5 separate regions of the Homo sapiens genome follow, and regions 1, 3, 4 and 5 are each reported to be linked to region 2. Evidence: microRNA targets listed by miRTarBase, many of them from high-throughput screens and not tested one by one. Region 2 holds a microRNA gene; each other region holds the end of a gene's coding sequence.

Region 1 (4,293 bases), not on the chromosome of region 2:
TTCCTACAGAAATACAAGGAAGATGAGCCTCTGTTTACAAGCAGCCTTTGGGGTCCATCCTGTGATGAGCTTGATCAAATTGTGGAAAGCTGTCTTCTTCCTGAGCTGAATGTGGGAGATTGGCTTATCTTTGATAACATGGGAGCAGATTCTTTCCATGAACCATCTGCTTTTAATGATTTTCAGAGGCCAGCCATTTATTACATGATGTCATTCAGTGATTGGTAAGGTGATTTTATTTTAAGGCAGATGGGATATTTGAACTGTCCTTTTAGACTTGCTAATAAGTTTTAATTCTGTAATGAATGCTAAACTTAGAAGTACAGTCATGTATTGCCTATACAGTGTAGTTACTTAATGATGGGAATTTGTTCTGACAAATACAACATTAGGCGATTGTATGATGGCATAACCTACTACATAATCTAGGCCATGTGGTATATTGATCCTAGGCTACAAACCTGTACAGCATGTTACTCTGTTTAATACTGTTGGCAGTTGTAATGCAGTGGCGTTTGTGTATCTTAAGTTACTTAAACATAGAAAGGATAATACATTGTGCTATGACATGATTGCTGCGATGTAACGAGGTGATAGGACTTTTTAAACTTCACTGTAATTTTACGGTATACCACAGTCATATGTGTAGTCTTTGACCAAAACATCACTCTGCAGTGCATGACTATCATAGAAAAATGATGATCTTTTAAAGGTTTTTGGAAGACTAGTTATAATCCTGTTTTATTATCCATTTGTTATGTGATTACGTGGTCTTTGGGCTTAAACTGAGAATTTAGCTGATTTTTTTTCTACGTAGGTATGAGATGCAAGATGCTGGAATTACTTCAGACTCAATGATGAAGAACTTCTTCTTTGTGCCTTCTTGCATTCAGCTGAGCCAAGAAGACAGCTTTTCCGCTGAAGCTTAAACAGGCATTAACGCTTCTTTAGATCTGAAGTTGCAGGTTAAGCTTGTCTGGTCAACATTCCAGTGTGGAAAAATAATTTAAACAATCTTATTCTCTTAATTCTTTTGGCAACAAAAACTATTAGTAATAGCTATTTGGGACCAGACAAAATCAGCTTTCATCTATAATTCATTGGGGATAATGGGAGATTTAGATAATGTATCCAGATTTAAACCTACCAGTTTGTCCTACCCCTTAAGCGTTTAAAATAAAATATGCAACAAAATGGATGACTTAGTGGAGATGGAAGCCCATTAATTGGGTTCCCCATTAAATCGTTTACATACAAGAACACAGTTTTTATACTAAGGATTTGTGTTTAAAGTCTTGTAAAGTTCATGTCTTTCACCCAGATATATCAAATGTTAGAAGACCAGTGTGACTTCATTAGATAACGTTTAGTGTATTTAGAATGTGTAAATTTGTGCTTTGAACTGTAGTTTAATAAATGTAAAATTGCATCATAGTATTTGTTGACCTAATGTAACCCTTGTATGATTGCAATAAAATTTTGTGTAGATTTTACTGTTTTTTCAGGCTAAAACTTTGGGAAAGGGGCTAGCTAGCAAAGGTAGTTTTGAAATAGATGTGTATATGGACTGTTTTGAAGGGTTTTTTTCTTTATAGCCCAGTTAAGTTTTGTTTGGCTCGGTGCATTTTTCATTTATTTAATTAGTAATTTAAGTAAAGTGTTTGGTAAATCATTGTGAAGTTCAGATTCATTATGGAGAGTTGATGTGCAGTAAGCATGATGTTTAACAATTTTAACACCAAAAATGTTAATCCTGCATAAATCAACTGTAATAATAAATAGGTGTTTCTGTATAGATAGAATGCATAGAGTACCTTAGTAAATCTTTGAATCACAATCTTTTGGCTGAAATGGAAGATTCTGTTAAATACTTTGAATAAACTTGGGGGGAGGGAAATAAAATTGCAGAAAACTGCAGAGCACTAAAACTTAAAGAAGGGCTACATCTTTATCCAGAAACCTGTTGCTCTTTTGCACGGAATGTTTAAATTCAGAGTTGGGATGGGGGTTGGGGTGAAGCACACTTATTATCTTCAGTTGCAGTGATTTCAAATTTAGGATTTTTTGTTGTTGGTTTGAACTGTCCCCTTAGTTTCTTGTTATTTCCAATTTGTTCTGCTTAGTCATTACTTTTAATTCTTTTCTTACTAAAATTTTATGGTGGTTGGGGGAAGGGAGTTAGCATCACTAACCTGACAGTTGTTGCCAGGAATTTGCTTTGTTTACTGCTAGTATATTAGAAATCCTAGATCTCAGAATCACAATAGTAATAAACAACAGGGGTCATTTTTTCCTAACTTACTCTGTGTTCAGGTGTGGAATTTCTGTCTCCCAAGAGGAAATGTGACTTCACTTTGGTGCCAATGGACAGAAAATTCTACCTGTGCTACATAGGAGAAGTTTGGAATGCACTTAATAGCTGGTTTTTACACCTTGATTTCGAGGTGGAAAGAAATTGATCATGAATCTCTAATAAATTTAAATCTCTTAAACCAGTAGGTGCTTAATATTTTTTGATTTGATTAATGCCCATTTAAATCTCATGGGTTCTATTAAAAATATATATATATAGGGCCCCAATCCATTGCCATCAAATTGCCCTTGGACTTTTCCAAGGTATATTATGGGGTTTTATGCAAAATTCCAAGCTACCATGTAACTTTTTTTAACCATTTAACAAGGAGGGGGAACTGTTTCCTACCTTCTTTACATGTTGTGCATTGTTGTGGTCCAGAAATGCCAAACCTTTTTAAAGATGGTGCAACTTTGAGTCCTTGGCTTGACTATACAGGCCTTGAACTTCATGGCATATCAACTTTGCCATATCTGCAGGAGAGCTGTTCTATAAGAAATAGCTCAGAGTTGCAAATATCACATGTGAATGATACGGTAACTTTTAAGAAATGTCTGTATTGTATTTGAAGACTGTTTGCCATAAATCTGAAATTTGAACCTATGTATTTCAATTTGGTATGCTAAAAAGTTCTGAATTAATGTAAAGTTTTTTGTTATAATATTGTAATCTCAGTTCAAAAGTTAACTGCAAATATAAAACCCAATGATTTCTATATAGTAAATTGAACTGTAAAGGTAACTTGTGTGTGATTCTGAATACATAGATAAATGTTTTTATTCCTCATGTTTTACTTTGGCTTCTATCTGAAATAGAGGTAAAATTTTACATATCAGCTTTATGTGTATTAACAATCTTGCTTTATTAGAAAGAAAATTGATTCTGCTAAAAAATGCTGGAAGTTATATATAGAACAGTGAAATTTTGGTAAAGTCCAGTATATATGTGAGCACTGTTTCCAGGACAGCCTTTTCTAGACACTTCAGTTCACTAGCCTCCTAACAATTTAAAACCCGGACTAAATGAATAGATTGACAAATTAAGCTAGATTTATTCCAAGTAAATATGGGCATTAATACCATTAAATGGAAATACTGGGTTAGAGAAGCCACACATTGCTTAATTCCTTTTTTCTTCTTTTTAGAGTATATATTTTAGTTTCCTAACCTGTCTTGGCCTTAAGAAGTCTTCTGAACTCTGCTGAAATGAAAAGCATCATCTCTTTGTTCTTTGAACACTTTAGTTAACTGGGTGACTTAATATTTTGGGGAGTAACTTTAAATTCAAAGATTTACTTAATTATTCAGGCAATGCACTAGTATAGGGTGGTGGTTAAAGGTGTAGACCTTGCCTCCAGTCTGCTTGACTCAAATCCTGCCTCTGCCATTTACTGTCTGTATGAACATAGGCTAGTCACCTAACCCTTTTGTGCTTCGGTTTTCCCAGATGGAAAATCGTGGTAAGGCCAGGCACAGTGGTTTATGCTCGTAAATGCCAGCACTTTGGAAGGTTGAGGTGAGAGGATTGCTTGAGCTCAGGAGTTCAAGACTAGCCTGGGCAATGTAGGGAGACCTGTGTCTCTCCAAAAAAATTCAAAATTAGCTGGTAGTCCCAGCTACTCAAAAGGCCAAGGTGGGAGGATTGCTTGGGCCCAAGAGGTGGAGGCTGCAGTGAGCCGCGATCACACCACTGCACTCCAGCCTGGGCAACAAAGTAAGACCCTATCTCTAATAAGAAAAGAAAGAAAATGATGGTAGTAAAAGTAGCAGCTTCATAAGGTTATAAGGATGTAACAGTTACAAGGTGCTTAGAACTGGCTGGCACACAGGGCTCAATAAACGACCCTTATTACCTATTAGATTGATTATACTGATTTGGACAAGTTGCTCTGGGCCTTGGTTTCTTGTCTGTAGGATGAAGACACTAGAACTTAACCTTAC
Region 2 (4,293 bases):
AAGGCCTGAGTTGGCTGAGGTGGGGTCGGGCTCGTGGAAGAACTGCCATTTGGTTGGGCTTCAGAGAGATGTAAGCAGACACGGGGTCTGGGTGGAGGAGTAGTGCCAGCAAAGGCATGTGGACAATGCACGGGGTATGGAGGGTAATCTCTTAGACTAGACTAGCTCACACTTGGAGGGAGCAGGGGAGCATGATGCCTTGAATGACTTCCTAAGGAGTTAGGACTTCAACAACTGAGTTGCAGGGCCCCGTCTACACTGGGGTTCAGGACTTTAGAGGACAACCGAGCTGTCCTGCAGGGCTGCTGAGGGTTCTGCCCTTGTCCTTTCCCTGGAGGCTAACAAATCATTGCTTTGCATTCCATTCACATGGGATAGTTGTGCCATGAAAGGGGATGGAGAAAATCAAGGAAGACCTCCTGAAGGAGGTGGAGAGGTTAATCAGGAGCTGGAGGAACGCACTGCCCACTCAGCTCTGTGGTTTGAGTCTCCAAAGGTGGTCTAGAGCATGGCGAGGACCATCGGAACTTGGGTGAGCTAGGGAAGTTTTTACCTAGAGGTTGAGGGTCCCCTTTTATATGATGAACTGTGCTCTTGGAGTGTCCCATTTGCCATGCAGAACAAAACACTGCCCTTTATCTTGATGAAGAGATAGTTGACCACATAATGGCCAAAGCATGGTCAGTATTGTACATTTTGCCTTGTCGCAGTCTTTCCAAGTTGACATGGCCTTCCTGGAGGAATTACCACTTAGGGTAGAGGCACCCCTTCCCCCATCAATGCCACTGCCCCACATTGGAGGAGGGGTTGTTTATGTTCACCATGTGCCTGCTTCCAATGCCAAATCCAGCCTCAGAAAGCTTTCTGGAAGTGACGCCAACTTCAGGGGCAAGGCCCTGGTTCTGGGGTCAGCACCATTCCGTGGTTCCTGAAGAGATGGTAGACTATGGAACGTAGGCGTTATGATTTCTGACCTATGTAACATGGTCCACTAACTCTCAGTATCCAATCCATCCTCGGAGGGCTTCCTGGAGGTGTTGCCAACTTCAGGGAAGAGAACACGTGGTTTAGCTTCAGCACTGCTCCACGGCAATTTCTGTGGCTCATGGTTGATGTCTGACTTGTGCAACAAGGCCTGGCTCTTCTGGGCACTAAATGCACTCTCTGGGGAGTTTTCTGGAAGTGATGCAACTTGGGCTCAAGACACCGGTTCCAGCCTCAGCCGTGGTTCTGGAAGAGATGATTTGCCATGTGGCCTGTGCGAAAGGAGGGATTTGTGTGAGATGGGCTACCACTTCCCAGTAGCCTGCCAGCTTTGGAGGGCTTCGTGGAGCCAATACTACCTTCAGGGGGACCCACCAGTCCATCCTTCATTCCGCTGTGTGGCATTGAAGAGTTGCTTTCCTGTGTTGAAGTTTTCTGTTTATACCAATGTCCACCTCTGATCAATCTTACATTCAGTCTCAGGGTTTTCCGGAGGCAGTGCCAAGTCTGGGAATGAGACAGTGGTTCTGTCCTTAGGGAGGTGGTTGACCAAAACAACTCCTGCTTTGTTCATGAAGATGGCATGGTGGTTACTGCTCAGAATCTAATCCAACCTAAGAGGACCTCCTGGAAATGCCCTTGGTATTGAGGCAGATATGGCCTTAGGGCACTTTTTTTTTTTTTTTAATGCCCAAGACTAGAGCTCACTAATAGGTAAGATCTGGGCCTCAGGTGCCCAGTACTGTTTCCTTGGCCTGGTTAGTGTAACTAGATGGATGTTCTTTGGTTGCACGTGGGCCATTTTGTATTTCTGATTTTCTCCCCACTCCCCTAACCAGCTCTGTTAGCCATGTGCCATGTCCTCCCTCCCATCTACCCACTCCTTCAGACCCAGCACAGTGCGCCTGGCACACAGCAGGCACTTAATCAGTATTTATGGAGTGATGAAATCCATATCATCGTCCACTTCTTCTCAGTGGGACTTTCGGCCTCGAAGGGCTTCCTGGAGGAGTTGCCAGTTTTGGGGATGAGCCACTGCTTCGAGCATTCATGTCAACCCCCGACCATGAAGACGAGACTCCTGGCCTGTGTGTGCTTGTCGCATGATGCATGTGCTGTGCTCAACCTCCCTTCTGGTTCCACCCAGCTCAAGGCCTTGGAGGGCTTTCTGGATGTGTCCTGAGCCTTTGTCCTCGGCATCTCTGTGTGGTACTTGGAGAGATAGTAGACCGTATAGCGTACGCTTTATCTGTGACGTATGTAACACGGTCCACTAACCCTCAGTATCAAATCCATCCCCGAGGCTCCTGGAAACAACGCTGTCTTCGGGGAGGAACGGTTGGACCCACCACCACTTCTCCATGACACCCGAAGAGATGATTTTCTGTATGGCATGTGTTTTTCTGCATGATGCAAAATGGCATAATCTCGCTCCTCTTAAATCAAGTTCTGCCTTGGGAAATCGCGCCATCCCTGGGGAGGAGACCTTGATTCTTCCCGGAATCAGTGCCATTCCATGGTGCTCAATGACGTGGTTGACTACGCTACGCTTATTCAGTAGACACCGTGACCTGCTTCTTCTCAGCGTCAAATGCAGCCTAGAAGAAGCGCCCTCAGGCAACTTCGTGGACATGAGCCTTCTTCCAGCCACCACCACCACCATCGTGCGGTACTTGAAGAAATGGTTTACCGTCCCACATACATTTTGAATATGTATGTGGGATGGTAAACCGCTTCTTGGTATCCAGCCCAGCCATCCAAACCTCCCTGGAGAAAGCCTGGAGTTAGAGGAGAGCCACGGGTCTCGGCATCCGCCATGCCATGGCACTTGGTGGAATGGTAGACTCTTAGATGTGTGCTTTCTCTGTCAATGCTTGTGATGCGGTCTTCTCCTCAGTGCCAAACACAGCCTCCAGTGACTTCCTCAGGACAAGGATGACCTCCAGGAAGGTGTCCTACTGCCCACGTTGGCACATCCCTCTGGAGTAATTGAAGAAACGGTGGCTGGTGCCGCAAATGTTCATGAACGAGGGATGTGAAACAGGTCACCTCTCATCCTCAGAGCCCTCCTCAGATGACTTCAGGACAGTACGCCCATGTAGGAGCAGATATGGGTCCAGGAGATGATGCCACTCCAGGTACTTGAAGACGCACTGACTCGTTTTTGTCTTTGCTGATGCGTGTACAGTCTATCTTTTTTCCATCTCAAGTCTAGCCATCTCGGGGGAAGATGTCCCAGCTCTGGACTCAGCACTGATCCTCATGAAGAGCTGCTCGACCCCATCGTGTATGTTTACAGAGGAAGTGCCTCCATGGCCCACTTCTTCCCTATCTCCATCCCAGAACCCTTGCTTGGAGAACTTGCTGAAGAAGCTGCCAGCCTCAGGGACAGAGCACTGGTTCTGGCCTCTTCACTGACCTCACGGTACCTGAAAAGGGTTCAGCCACACTGCATGTCTTTTCCCCATGACGTATGTAACATGGTCTACTTCTTTTGAAGTATCCCATTCAGCCTGGAAAGTCTCCAGGGAGGTTATGTTAAGCTTAGGAGACAAAGCACCAGTTCTGGTACAAGTACTGCCTCGGGGTACTTAGTAGAAGTTGGCCATGCTTCATATGTTTTACTTACAACGCATGTTACTTCGTCCACCTTCCTATAACAGCGTGCACCTCGGGGGGCTTTCTGTAGGCAGGAACGAGTGTCAGTCATAGCACTAGTTCCAGCATCATCTCCATTCTTGAGGGGCTCCTTTGTGCTGCGTCCACTGCATCTGCGGCAGACATTGCATGGTGGCCTCTTCTCAATACTACATCAGGCCTCAGAGGGCTTCCTGGAGGTGATGCTAGTGAGAGGAAAGAGACACCGGCTCTGACCTCAGCCCTCTCCAAGGTACCTGAAAAGATGGTTGACCATAGAACATGCGCTATCTCTGTGTCGTATGTAATATGGTCCACATCTTCTCAATATCAAATTCAGTCATAGAGGGCTTCCCAGAGAGAGGCAAAGTCACCTTCGTGGGAGACACACTGATCTGGCTTCAGCGCCATTCCACAGTACTTGGAGAGATGGTAGAGCATAAAGCATATGCATTGTTGAATGACAGATGTAGCATGGTCCACTCATTCTCAGTATCAGCCAGCCCTGGGGCTTCCCGGAGGCCATGCCGACTTGAGAGCCAGGCCTGAGTGGTAGCCAGGGTGCAGTGCAGGTCACCGGGTGGTTGGCTGCAGACCCAGTCCTTTATTTATTACATTGGCCATTTGGTCCACCAGCCAAGAACTCAGTACCGGTCCCACCCTTACAGGGCA
Region 3 (4,293 bases), not on the chromosome of region 2:
TCTGGTTCTCCTCAGCTAATTTGTTCAAGTTTGGAGAATGCCAGTAGTCACCTGTATCACCAGTGGGCCTTCTCAGATGCAAGACTTAAAGCCAGTAACTTTTAGACCAGTCTCCTGGTTTCTGTGAGCACCAGATCCTTGTGTGGAGCCTAGATGATAAACTACGTAACAGAGGACCTTTGAGGGCTCAAATGCGGTAAACAGCTCATTCTGCACTAGTGCTCTGTCCAGATGGTGCCTCATCACCTTGGACTGCAGCGGTTGGTTTATGTAAAGGTCTCCTCCTCACTCCTTGTTTCTCACAGGCAACTACCATGCTTCATTCACCTGGCACATGACAAGCATTCACGTAGTTAAGTGCAACTGACCGTCAGGTCAGGTCTGGTCTACAGATGGGTTTTATTTTGCTTGCAGAGTATGTAAATTTTTTATTTGTTGCGATCACATCTCGTACAAAAATCTGGATTCCCCAGATTCTCTGGACAATTTTGAAGTTGGGGCATTAGGGTCCATCTTCCTGCATGGTGACAATCAGCACCTAGGACAGGCTGCCCCGTTTAGATGGATGCTGTCCACTGTGCCTGTCCCCATCACTCCCTCCTCTCACATGGGAATTGCCTCAGCTTCCTTCATTGATTTGACCTCCCTGGTCTCTATAGACAGCGGAGTTAGCAGCTCCTGTTGGTGACTTAGGCAGGAATGGAAGAGGTCTCCATCGGCCCCACCAAAACCAGTTGTCAATACATGCCTGTGGCAAAGGCAGCATCTGAGGCTTGCCAGGCAAACAGCAGCTAGAAGACGCCTCTGGAGAGACCCTTGGTCAGCAGGTATTCTAAACAACCCAGCTATTTCATGGTAGTCAATAGCACGGATGTGTGGTTGATTTGGCTGCACTCAATCCTTTTTCTAGTCCAGTCTCTGGTGAAAAATAGGCGAGGGTATGCCATTTGTGCAAGAAGGGGGAAAGGTAGGCACTTGGCTTCACTGAACCACCATCAGGCATCAAGGAAAAGGCTTCTTGGCCTTCCCATCCAAGCAAGCATTCTAATCATGGTCACCAGGAAAGTGGCCAAGACACCCAACAATATAAAGAAAGGGTGGTGGGGGTGACAGCAGGTCATTCCAGGCTGAGGCCAGGGCATGCAGAAGCATGGAGGTGCAGGCTACTGGGGTCTATGAAGGGCCTAAGGATGGGGCAGGAGGAACAGCTGGAGCGATGGCATATGCCATGTTAAGAGAGTAAGCTGTGTGAGAAACCAGGGAGTGAGGATGCAGGGGAACAAGTCATGGCTTGAGGCTTCTGCTTGGAGAAAGAAAGACAATTCACTTTAATAGTAATTCCCAAGATGGAGAGGCACCATCACTCACCCTCATTTTTTATTTTTATTTTTTTTTTGAGATGGAGTCTCGCTCTGTTGCCCAGGTTGGAGTGCAGTGGTGTGATCTCAGCTCACTGCAACTTCCGCCTCCTGGGTTCAAGCGATTCTCCTGCCTCAGCCTCCTGAATAGCTGGGATTACAGGCGCCCGCCACCATGCCCAGCTAATTTTTCTATTTTTAGTAGAGACAAGGTTTCACCATGTTGGCCAGGCTGGTCTGGAACTCCTGACCTCAAGTGATCCACTCACCTTGGCCTCCCAAAGTGCTGGGATTACAGGCGGGAGCCACTGTGCCCGGCCTAGGATTTTTTAAATACGATTTTTTCCCCAGAACGTCAGTATAAGAAAACACGTTATATATGAAATGTATGAAATGGAGCAGGTCTGGTGATGGGGCTCGCAGGGGGCTCTGGGCAATCTTCAGTGTCTTCTTTACGGAGGTCCCCAGCGTCGGAGTGGCACAGGTCGGAGACCGCTGATCTCGAGTAGGACTGCATTTTAAACGCAGAACGAGCTGCCCCAAGATAGAGTTCCTTTTGCCTAAGAAGCCAAGAGCTCCTATAGAGATGAACAATTCCACTTCCTGTTGCCACATTTTTAACTATTTATTGAATGAGGCAGTCAAAGACAGAATGGGAAACAACACAGAATCCATGCTCTGCTACTGGGGTTTTGCTTTTTTCTTCGTCTTGGCAACTTCTCAAACTATTTGGAGGTTATTTCACCACAAAGGAACATGGACTTTAAAGTCCCTGGACAACTTCACAATGACGATAAAAAATAATAATTAAAAAAATAACAAATTGTAGAACTAGGACTATTTATATGTAAATTTCCCTCCCCTCCCCCCATTACGTACAGAAAAGAACATATAAAGAACATTAGATAGTTTTATATAAAACAAGCAAATACAAGAATCTGAAACTTCTCTCAAAGGTTGAGCAAGACGTGGAGAATCTTTTAATGTCGCATTAAAAAAACACATTAAATACACCATCACACACATGGGGAGAGCTGGGAGGAGGGAGGAGGAGCTGTCCCTGTACTCAAGGTTCAGAGATTTGGCCTGTTGAAAAGTCAGGTGAATTCAGCTACTGGAGACTCAGGGCTTGCAGCTGAGAAAGACAGAGTTAACGGTTACCAAGAACACCCAGATAGTCAACACCTCTGAGGAGGCAAGCTGCTCCCGGCCTGGGCCACGAGGTTGCATCAAGGAACATGGGCCTCCAGGAGTCCCTTCTGAAGCAGGGCCTGATCCAGGAACACAGCAAACACCCTCAGCTGTTTTCTATGGCCAGGTGTCCCTTCTTCCCTTCCGCGTACTGACCGGGCCCAACCAAGCTTAGCTTCCAAGATCACACAAGATCAGGGGCGTTCAGGGTGCTGTGGCCACAGACCAGATGTCTCTTCTTGTTCATTCCAGCGCCTCCTCTGTGAAGCTACAGACAGTAGAGAAAATTGCTCCCACGGGTGTATCCTGGTCTAGGACGATTTTTCTTTCCTTCCTTTCCCTTCCACTGCCCCCGCCCCCTTCCCATCCTCTCCCCCACCATGCACGCACACACACAAGCACACTTACACGCACGCACTCCTCAAACCCCTAATACTTCGGTTACCTTCAGTTCATATATACGAGCAATTCAGGACTGACCTTAAAACCAGAGCAACATTTTAATAGTCATGAGATCAAGGATTCCTGGGAAGGAGAGGAGATGGGAGGCTGAGGCCCGGGAGCTTTCAAGACATTCATCTGCCTGTGGCAAGGTCAGCACCTGGGCCAGCCCGAGGAGCATCTCAGCTGGCAGACCACGCAGTCCCTGGACCTTGCAAGCACATCTCTGACCCACCCCATGCTGGAGCCTCTTTCCTCAGGTGAGTCCAGCAGGGAGAGTTCTGTGTGGCCACTGGGAGGCAGCTTTGGTGAAGGGCATGGTCACCTCCGCCTGAGTTTGTCAGTAGCTCAACGCATGACCCTGGTATGAACAAAAACTGGGTGACTGTGTCTGGCCACGTACCCTACCACCCACTAAACTGGGTGAATTATTGTTTCCACAGCGCACCTTGATTTCATACAGATAATTCCATGCGGGTTTCATACATATATATATATATATATGTATATATATACTTTATATATATGTAAATGTGTATGTCCATATGTACACATATACATATATTCACACTCACACATACACACACATAAGTATACACACACATTTCCGCAGAAAGAAGTCCTGCCACAATTTGGCTTTTTTGGGACAGTGAAATTGACAATGCAGTTTCTTCACCAATCCCAGAAAATCAAGAGTGGTGCTTTAAAAAATGCAATTCCAAAATCCGCTTTCTTCCTTTTAAAAAAAAAAAGGTTAACAAAACTTTCCTTCCAAAGTCGAGAGACTTAATTCCATTTGATTGCACCTCTGCAAACGTGTAAAAAATTTTGAAGTAGACTAGAAAACGATGCCATAATATGGCTGTATGTCACTGTTCCAATGTCACCACCTCCACAGCTTGGCCGTCCATGGTGACTGCGCTGTCTGATATCCTGGTGGTCACAGGGGCCATGGCCACCTGCACTGGTCCGTTGCCCTGGGCGAGGCTGGTCACCACAGTCTGGTACATGCTCACAGGGATCTGGACCAGGCCTGGAGAGACAAAGAGAAGACCGTTGGTGGGGCTCAGGCTCAAGTTCCCAGATGCTGGCTGGACGGGGGCACCCAAGTCTTGCCTTTGAGGTATCGTGGTCACCAGCCTCAGGTGATCACATACCCATGGCCCAGGCACAAAGACATCTCTTTCCCACCCCATTAAAATTTTTTTCATTAATTTTTAAGATTTATAATTGATATATAGTAACTGTTCATGTTTATGGGGTACAATGTGATGTTTCAATGCATGTATACACTGTAGAATGA
Region 4 (4,293 bases), not on the chromosome of region 2:
TCCGGAGGCTGAGGCAGGAGAATCACTTGAACCCCGGAGGCGGAAGTTGCAGTGAGCCAAGATCGCGCCACTGCACTGCACCCTGGCAACAGAGCAAGACTCCGTCTCAAAAAGAAAAAAAAAAGATGCTAATTGGTCCAATGTGAGGAATATTTTAAAAACAAGGGAACAAATTAAGTGCTTCACATATGTTTGGAGAATTGTATCTTAATACATTTTAATTTTCCTTTATCTTGCAGTGAACCCTGGAGGATGGGCACCAGCCTCAGTGTTAAGGGCAGTGGCAAAGCGAGAGTATCCTAAATTTCTAAAACGTTTTACTTCTTACGTCCAAGAAAAAACTGCAGGAAAGCCTATTTTGTTCTAGTATTAACAGGTACTAGAAGATATGTTTTATCTTTTTTTAACTTTATTTGACTAATATGACTGTCAATACTAAAATTTAGTTGTTGAAAGTATTTACTATGTTTTTTGATGTTCCCCTATAGAGTATTGTTTCGTTGGTTTTTGTTGTTGTCGTTGTTGTTGTTTTAAACAGGGTCTTGCTCTGTTTCCTAAGCTGAAGTGCAATGACACCATCACGGCTCACTGCAACCTCAACCTCTGGCCTCAAACAATCCTCTCATCTCAGCCTTCCCAGTAGCTGGGAGTCCCCACAGGCATGTGCCACCATGCTCAGCTAATTTTTTATTTTTTGTAGAGATAGGGGTCTTGCTATGTTACCCAAGCTGGTCTTGAACTCCTGGCCTCAGACAATCCTCCTGCCTCAGCCTCCCAAAGTGCTGGGATTACAGACATGAGCCACCGTGCCTGGCCTTGAAAATTGTAGTTTATAGCCTTTAAAACTTAATTCTTTTATTGTTTCCTTTTTCTTCTAATGCTTATGTAAAGAAATTTTGATATTATAGAACTGTAGAATTGTAGAAGTGCAAACTTCCTGTATTCTTTCCTTTCCCAGAAACTGTTATTTTTGTTGTATATTCCTCCAGATTTTTCTGTGTATGTACTGACATATTTTTGAATGTTAAAATGTTTATACTTACTATTATACAAAATTCTTGTTTTATAACCTTTTTTTCACTTAACAATGTATCTTGACTATCTTTCTTTATAAGACATGAGATGTGTAAAACATCTCATTCTTTTAACATCTGTTACATGCATGTTGCAGAATTTATTAACTAGTCCCATGTTAATGTCTGAGTTGGTTCCATATTTTTACTGTCAACCAGTACAGCACTGAACACCTTTATGCAAAGAGGTAGAATCTTTAACTTTATTTTGGTGTTGTTGAGACAAAGTTTCTCTCTTGCTGCCCAGGCTGGAGTGCAGTGGTGCAATCTTGGCTCACTGCAACCTCTGCCTCCCAGGTTCAAGCGATTCTCCTGCCTCAGCCTCCCGAGTAGCTGGGATTACAGGCGTCCATCACCACGCCCAGCCTATTTTTGTATTTTTAGTAGAGGCAGGGTTTCACCATGTTGGCCAGGCTGGTCTCGAACTCCTTACCTCAGGTGACCTGCTCTCCTGGGCCTCCCAAAATGCTGGGTTTACAGGCGTGAGCCACTGCACTCAGCCCAAAATCTTTAACTTTTTAAAGTAAGTGATACGTTAACATGATTAAAAGCCAAAAGTGGCCAGGTGCAGTGGGTCACACCTGTAATCCCAACACTTTTTGGGAGACTGAGGTGGGAGAATGGCTTGAGGCCAGGAGTTCAAGTCTAGCCTGGATAACATAGCAAGATTCCATCTTGACAAAAAACAATTAGGCGTGGTGGTATACATGTATAGTCCTAGGTACTTGGGAGGCTGAAGCAGGAAGATCGCTTTGTCTGGGAGTTTGAGGCTGCAGTGAGCTGTGATTACACGACTGCACTCCAGCCTGGACAGGTAATGTCTGTCAAAAAATAAATAAATAAAGTCAAAAGTATGAAAAAGTTATACAGTAAAATTTACCCTGTCTTGCATTCACCATATAGTATTAACATATGCTATTACTAGTTTCTTCTAGAAAGTTTTTAATGCTTGAATGAACAAATACAAGTGTATTTTCTACACAGATACACTTTTTTTGTTGTTAAAGAAGCAGCAGCATACTATAAACACTGTTCAACATCTTATATTTGCATTTATTTTATCTTGAAGGTCTCACATATTTGTAAGGAGCTTCCTCATTTTGATGGTTATACAGTATCCCATTGTATAGATGTACATAATTTATTTAATCAGTTCTGCATTGGCGAATATTACAGTTTCCAATTTCTGCCAGAGCAGTGTCATAATTGTATCCATATGTCATTTTGTACTTGCAAGTTTATATGTGGGAAAATTAATAGATGTGGTACTACTGGCCCTGCTAGGGGTTTGTGCATAATTTAGATACTACTTTTCATAGAGGTTATAGTAATTGACCATCTCAACAGCAATAATGAATTGGAGTCCCTGTGTCCCACAGTTTTTCATACAACGTGTAAAACAAAACTTTATAACTTTCCCAACTCATTAGGTGAAAAATACTCTCTCAGTGTAGTTTTAATTGTATTCCTCTTCTTATGACTGAGTTTAAGCCTGCTTTAGTCCATTGAGAATCTTTTGTATAGTACTATTTCTATAAATTCTATTTTGTAATAACATTTAAAATATTAGTAGATATTGCCAATTGTGATACACAAATGGTAAGCAATAACATGAATATTCTCTCATTCTCACCTACACTGGATGTTAAATAATTGACTGAGAAATGTATATTCTTGAGTCCTTTTCTTTAGCTAAAAATAATAGTCAATTATATAATGAAATAATTTTAAACAAGTCTGATTTCTAATGATGTTTATAGTATGTCTTTCTTTTAAAAAATGCAAAAGCTAAATTTATTGTCCGATACTAACTAATATCCCATACTAACATAAGGGATATTGCATTGATGTCTCAGTTGTTTAGCTTTATCCCAGGAAAAAGGGTATTTGAAAATATTAAATAGGTTCCAGTCTTAGTTACCTGAATGATTGGTGTTTTGGAATATAGCCTTACCCTTTAGGGATTCTCTCTTCAAGCACAAGTGCACTGCATTCAGTGTGCTGACAATTTTTATATCTTGTACTTTAGAATTGTTATAGCTAGATCTGGACACATTACTTCTTATCGATTCTGAGTCTGTGCCATATTTATCAAATAAACCAGAAAACTGATGGCACGTGACAGCAACAGGCTTATCACCCTGCTTCGCTGTGTGTCTCTTTGCCATGGCCTCTAGGGTTTTTAAAGTGGTGCTGTTTCACTCTATCCAAGACCAGATTTTGTTTCACTCTAACTATATCTGCCTTCTCTCTTCTTCACTATGACCTCACTGAAACGGCCTCCCTCTTGATGCTTTATGATGACTTCCTTACCAAAGGTTCTCAGATATTCAACCAAGCAAGGCAGAAATACAACTTTGTATTAAAGCAAGAGAAATCTGAATGCAGTTGTGTGTAAAACATGCTCTCAATTATATTTGAGAAGAATAATTTTTTAAACAGTTGAAAGATAAATGGTAGGATATTAGCAGCATTTGCTTCTAGACTTGGATTTAGAGCGGTGTTTCATTGACTCTCTGTGTGTGTGCATGTGTATGTTCACAGATTTTTCATTTGTGGACCTGGGAGGGAGGAGCTTGGAATCTGAAAAAATTCATCTCTGGGGAAGAGAGGTCTATTGTTTGTGGGTACATGTATATGTGTGCAAAGATACAGCTGAAAAGATTCATTGGCCCAAACTCAGATTTGGCTTTTTGAGTCCAGATTGAGCTTCTTTCTAACAAAGATCCAAATTCAAACCTTAACATGGTAAAATCTTTGTTACTGTAACGTAACTTTTTTTTTTTTTTTACAATAATTATGGAAGATAAATGTATGAAGTCGAACCCAGCATTGAAACCCTAGGAAAGCGAACATTCTTAATTTTGGTGATGGAAAAAAATAGTAACATTCAATAATGTGTGTATCATCTTTAGAGAAAGTTCTGTAAAGAGTTAATAAGATCCAAAGTTGTTTAACAGTAAAAACTTTATATATATATTATATATAATATATATTTTTATTTATTTTATTTATTTATTTATTTATTTATTTATTTATTTATTTATTTATTTATTTTGAGACAGCATCTCACTCCTGTCGCCCAGGTTGGAGTACACTGGAGCGATCTCAGCTCACTGCAGCCTCAACTTCTCAAGCTCAGGTGTTCCTCCTACCTCCCTGGGTAGCTGGGACTATAGGCACACACCACCATGCCCGGCTAATTTTTTATACTTTTAGT
Region 5 (4,000 bases), not on the chromosome of region 2:
ACCCCATTTTGCAATAAGAGTATAATCTCCTTTGAGAATTATTCCTGAAATCACAACCAGGCTTCTCCCGTCCCCTCTCATCAGTGAACACACTCCTCAAACAGGGAAGCATTCTTCTCATCAGACATTGGCAGAACCATACAAATGTTCAGAGGCAGACTTTCAGGAGGTTCTTTTAAAGTCTAACAATTCTATGAAACATGACAAAGACACTGACATAAGCGCTGTCGGGTTAAAGGAGTCTTTGAAATCTCTTTTGTGATGTGAAATGTGAACATTCTTTGCCTTTTGTTAAACGTTTAGATTGACACTCTCCCCACACACAAAAGGAATATCACATCTTATTCCTACATGCTTTAGATGTTGGGATTAGTAGGTTTCCTGCAATAGATCTGTGGGCATTTGGGGGATGATGCGGTGAATTGCAGATGGAAGATAATGGTGACAGTATTATACAGGTATACTTAATGCTGTTTCTGAATTGAAGATATTTATCCCTTCCAGATTTGCATTTTGTGTTCAACACTGGGACACTGTGTGGGGTACCCTGCGTGACAGTTAATACTGTGTAATGAATTCCACAAGATTGCTAAATTTCATGTCTTCTGTTATTAAATTTTATGGCTTTCATTTTAGTAAGCAATTTATAAAGTTTTCTCACTGATCTCAAAGATTAAAGGCTGTATATACAGCAATTAGCATTATTCTGGCAATAATGCCTAAGATTTATTAGTTCCATTCTTACCTCTTCCAAAAGCATAGAGAAGTTTAATAAATAAATGAGATCTAATGCCCATCTATGATTCAATGAAGGTGTATAACATGTGACAGGCTAAGGCTGGCTTAGCTATTGATCATCTGGTTCTTTAGTTCTATCCCTGAAAATACAGACTGACCCTAAACCAATGTTCCTAGACGACATTAAGTTGTGCCTTCACTGGGTTAAGAAGCACCATTATAACCTCTGTCTCCATTTTGCATCTTTTTTACATTCTGAAGAAATGTTCCTATATACAGACCCTCATGCTGTAGTTCAAGAGGAAATTAGCCTCTGCACATAAGTTTTTTTACTGTGAAAAGCAAAAAGTGTTTTAGCAGCCAGAAAATTCAGAACCAAACTTACTGTCTAAATGTTACTTGCTACATTGACTCGTATAAAACTGTGTACTTCTATTTTACTGTTATGTCTTCTTTAAAGGCTCTGTATTTTGTAGGCCTCTTCAAGACCTTATAAATAGAAATCAAATTTCAAAAACAAAAATGTAGTTACAAGTGACTATAGTTTAGCATACTGTATTATTTGCTATTATAATCTAAAGATTAAATATAGGTTTAACAGCTATTTTAAAAAATGAATAATTTTACATAGAAAATATGCTAACTTCCCTTTTATCATCATAAGATCATAGTTGTTGTTATATTAAGTATTTATTATGCTGTTCAAATGTTAGCTGGTGTAAGTTACCTACTAAAATGCTTATTCAGCATAACTACTGAAAAAACTTAGCTGTCTCTGGTATTAGTTCATTGAATATTATATGCATCAAGTCTTTTCATGTTTCCACGTTATATTTTTAAAACAAGAAACTAGGCTGACTTAAAAAAATTTAAATCATGAATACATTATGTATAGGTTTTTCTGTCTCCTAAATATTATCTACTTTTTTAAAAAACAAAAATTTTGATACAAGAAAGCACTCTGAGGCAGTATATGTGTATTAAATTTAAGGTCACAATTTTCACTAATCTGAGAAAACACATATATGTAATATTTAAAAGTTAATGAAATCCAGTGAAACTTCAACTTATTTCATTGAGAATTTACTAACAAAATATAGAAAACAAGAATTTACCTCTTTTAAATGGCATGTCTGTATTACTTACAATTTGATAAATGAGTTCCTTTCCATACATACCTTAAGATCCACAACCTTGGTGGCATAAATAACATGATTAAAGGGTCAGGTACAATGTATATTTTAATATGGGATTTGTGTAGTGATTTAGAGCATAAATATCACACAGTGAAAAATTTATCACAAACTAAATACAGTAACAAAAGGAAAGAAAGAGCTTATGTCCACATTTCCAAGGTCTTTACAATAAGTTATAGCGTCCAGGTCCAACACAGCATATTTGCATACAAAGCCACTGATGTGAACACTGAAAGGAATCTGTCCTGTAGGTCTTTCATCTTGATTTAATAAAGTTTGTACAGTATCAAATAATATCAAAAGTCTAAAAAACACAATGAGCTTTTATGTTTATAAATTATTGTTTTTATACCATAAAAAAAGTCAAAAGTGCAGTTTAAAAAAAAGTGGAAGTTGTTATTCTTGATAAGAGCTAGAAAAATGTCATGTCCCAGTTAAGAAGCAATCTCAAGGCTCATCCAATTTCTAAGGAATTTTAACTGGCATCTAACCTTGGTTACCATATGCTGTAAGCAAAACCAACAGAATGGGAGCTATGTAACAATCTAGCGAAGAGAAACATTGCAAATAAATGTAATTATAGGCCTCTCCCAAAGTGAATGAAATGATTCTTTACTGGAATGAATGGGCTGTCACTGAATGTGACTATACTTGGTAAACTTCAAAGGCTTGCTAGAAATTTTTATCTTTTTCAAATTTTTAGTCATAGCTGACAATGGTACATATATCCCAGGATTATGAAATTTTCTAGTATAACTGAGAAAAATATAATTGAAAGGTAATAAATCATATCATCTATTATTTCTCACAGAAAATAAGGAATAAGGGCCCAGTAATTAAAAGGCAGAAGTACAGAGATTAGCCAAGAAGAAACAGATGGGTGAAATACAACTGGGTCTTAATTGGCACAGTAACTAGCTGTATTTTGACACACTCAAGAACAAATGCCTATACTGAAGTATGTGGTACATTAACCACTTGTACTTATGTAAGAAAATGAAATGGTAAAACGATAGGCTTATAAAACAAATTAAATTTAGAGAAAGGAAAAATAAAAGGAATGTAAAGAAAAATCAAGTTTATTGTGGCATCAAAATATTGACAGAGCTGTTATCAGTCAAGAGCAGTCTTCTTGTTGCTAAAACGAAGAGGCAGCCTGAGCCTGGCTCCATCCAACCACCTCTTCTAATGCTCTTTAACTGGCAGTGCTTCCTATAAATGACACCAAGCAATAGAGATGATTATTGTTTCCACTGAATAGAGTAAGTTCCTTGATTGGTTTAACATATATAGACTGCCTGAGAGAATAAAAACATCACCATACAATAGGTTAACGGTAAATCAAGGTCTTCGTAGTTGTGATGGGAGAAAAGGGTTGGCTGCTGGAAACAGTATGGTGCCCTGGAGGCTGCGTACGTACACACCCTAAGAATTCACATCACCATTAGCAGAAGATTAGAAGTCAATGGATATGGATGCTTGTGCAGAATCTTCTCGCCCCCTGACATAAATTTCACAGGGAATCTCCTCCATTACTCGGTCTTCCAGGGCCTGCTCAGGGCACTCATGTCCCTGTTTGAAAGTGTAACTACTTTTCTTGAAGGTGCTATTAAATGTTTTCATTGGCTGTGGTTGTGCAAAGTCATTTCGGAAAGGAAGTTCCATGGAACTGAGGTTGGTCCTGCTTTGTTTGACGCTGGAGGCCTGCGACCCACAGTGGTGGTCGTGGATGCAGCGGGAGGCGGTGGAGGAGCGCCGCATCTTCTGGTAGTTGTCCAATTCTTCCGACAAGTCTGCCAGGTCTGCAGAAATCTCTTTGTCCCTTAGTGAAAACAGTTCATAATGAGGAGGATCAAACACTTCTTGGAACCCGGTTTTATTAAAAGCGGTTTTGCAAGCCATGACCTTTTTTCGAGGCTGTTTCACTTGTACTAAAATAGAAATAATGAGAAGGACCAAGACAATCCCTGAAGTAATGCCAATAATTGTTCCATGAGTCTTAGTGATTTGTTCAAATACTCCTGCTTTTTTCTTTTCTGCAGAAAGAAAATGAGAAACGTTAAGTT

Evidence for each region. The annotated mature microRNA hsa-miR-411-3p reads UAUGUAACACGGUCCACUAACC and lies in region 2 at 2,242-2,263, shown strand. An mRNA with a match to its seed (bases 2 to 7 or 8) in the 3' UTR can be bound and repressed. Matches are read on the target gene's strand: a 7mer-m8 pairs with bases 2 to 8, a 7mer-A1 pairs with bases 2 to 7 and ends in A, and an 8mer does both.
Region 1: miRTarBase lists AZIN1 as a target of hsa-miR-411-3p. Seed matches in the 3' UTR shown: 7mer-A1 at 1,248-1,254 and 7mer-A1 at 3,179-3,185.
Region 3: miRTarBase lists NRF1 as a target of hsa-miR-411-3p. Seed matches in the 3' UTR shown: 7mer-A1 at 3,515-3,521 and 7mer-A1 at 2,203-2,209.
Region 4: miRTarBase lists CERT1 as a target of hsa-miR-411-3p. Seed matches in the 3' UTR shown: 7mer-m8 at 1,154-1,160.
Region 5: the mRNA of NETO2 is a reported target of hsa-miR-411-3p. Seed matches in the 3' UTR shown: 7mer-A1 at 2,920-2,926, 8mer at 2,469-2,476 and 7mer-A1 at 1,763-1,769.

What each region holds. Positions count from the first base shown.
Region 1 is chr8:102,825,203-102,829,495 of GRCh38, reverse strand. AZIN1 (antizyme inhibitor 1) reads left to right here. Exons shown (of 12, transcript NM_148174.4): 11 at 10-224; 12 at 818-3,188. The coding sequence ends at 929. Among named protein-coding and RNA genes, the nearest start is that of GASAL1, 20 kb to the right of the region's middle.
Region 2 is chr14:101,021,134-101,025,426 of GRCh38, forward strand. MIR411 (microRNA 411) reads left to right here and starts at 2,192; the gene lies at 2,192-2,287. LOC124903407 (mucin-2-like) reads left to right here. Exons shown (of 5, transcript XM_047432049.1): 5 at 1-4,293. MIR379 (microRNA 379) reads left to right here and starts at 933; the gene lies at 933-999. MIR299 (microRNA 299) reads left to right here and starts at 2,661; the gene lies at 2,661-2,723. It also overlaps MIR380.
Region 3 is chr7:129,754,748-129,759,040 of GRCh38, reverse strand. It overlaps NRF1 (nuclear respiratory factor 1), which reads right to left. Exons shown (of 11, transcript NM_005011.5): 11 at 1,965-4,023. The coding sequence ends at 3,860. It also overlaps the pseudogene RNA5SP244. Among named protein-coding and RNA genes, the nearest start is that of MIR182, 14 kb to the left of the region's middle.
Region 4 is chr5:75,375,420-75,379,712 of GRCh38, reverse strand. It overlaps CERT1 (ceramide transporter 1), which reads left to right. Exons shown (of 17, transcript NM_001379029.1): 17 at 240-1,938. The coding sequence ends at 367. Among named protein-coding and RNA genes, the nearest start is that of HMGCR, 40 kb to the right of the region's middle. RefSeq lists a silencer at 1-43.
Region 5 is chr16:47,079,832-47,083,831 of GRCh38, forward strand. It overlaps NETO2 (neuropilin and tolloid like 2), which reads right to left. Exons shown (of 9, transcript NM_018092.5): 9 at 1-3,970. The coding sequence ends at 3,390. Among named protein-coding and RNA genes, the nearest start is that of NETO2, 62 kb to the right of the region's middle.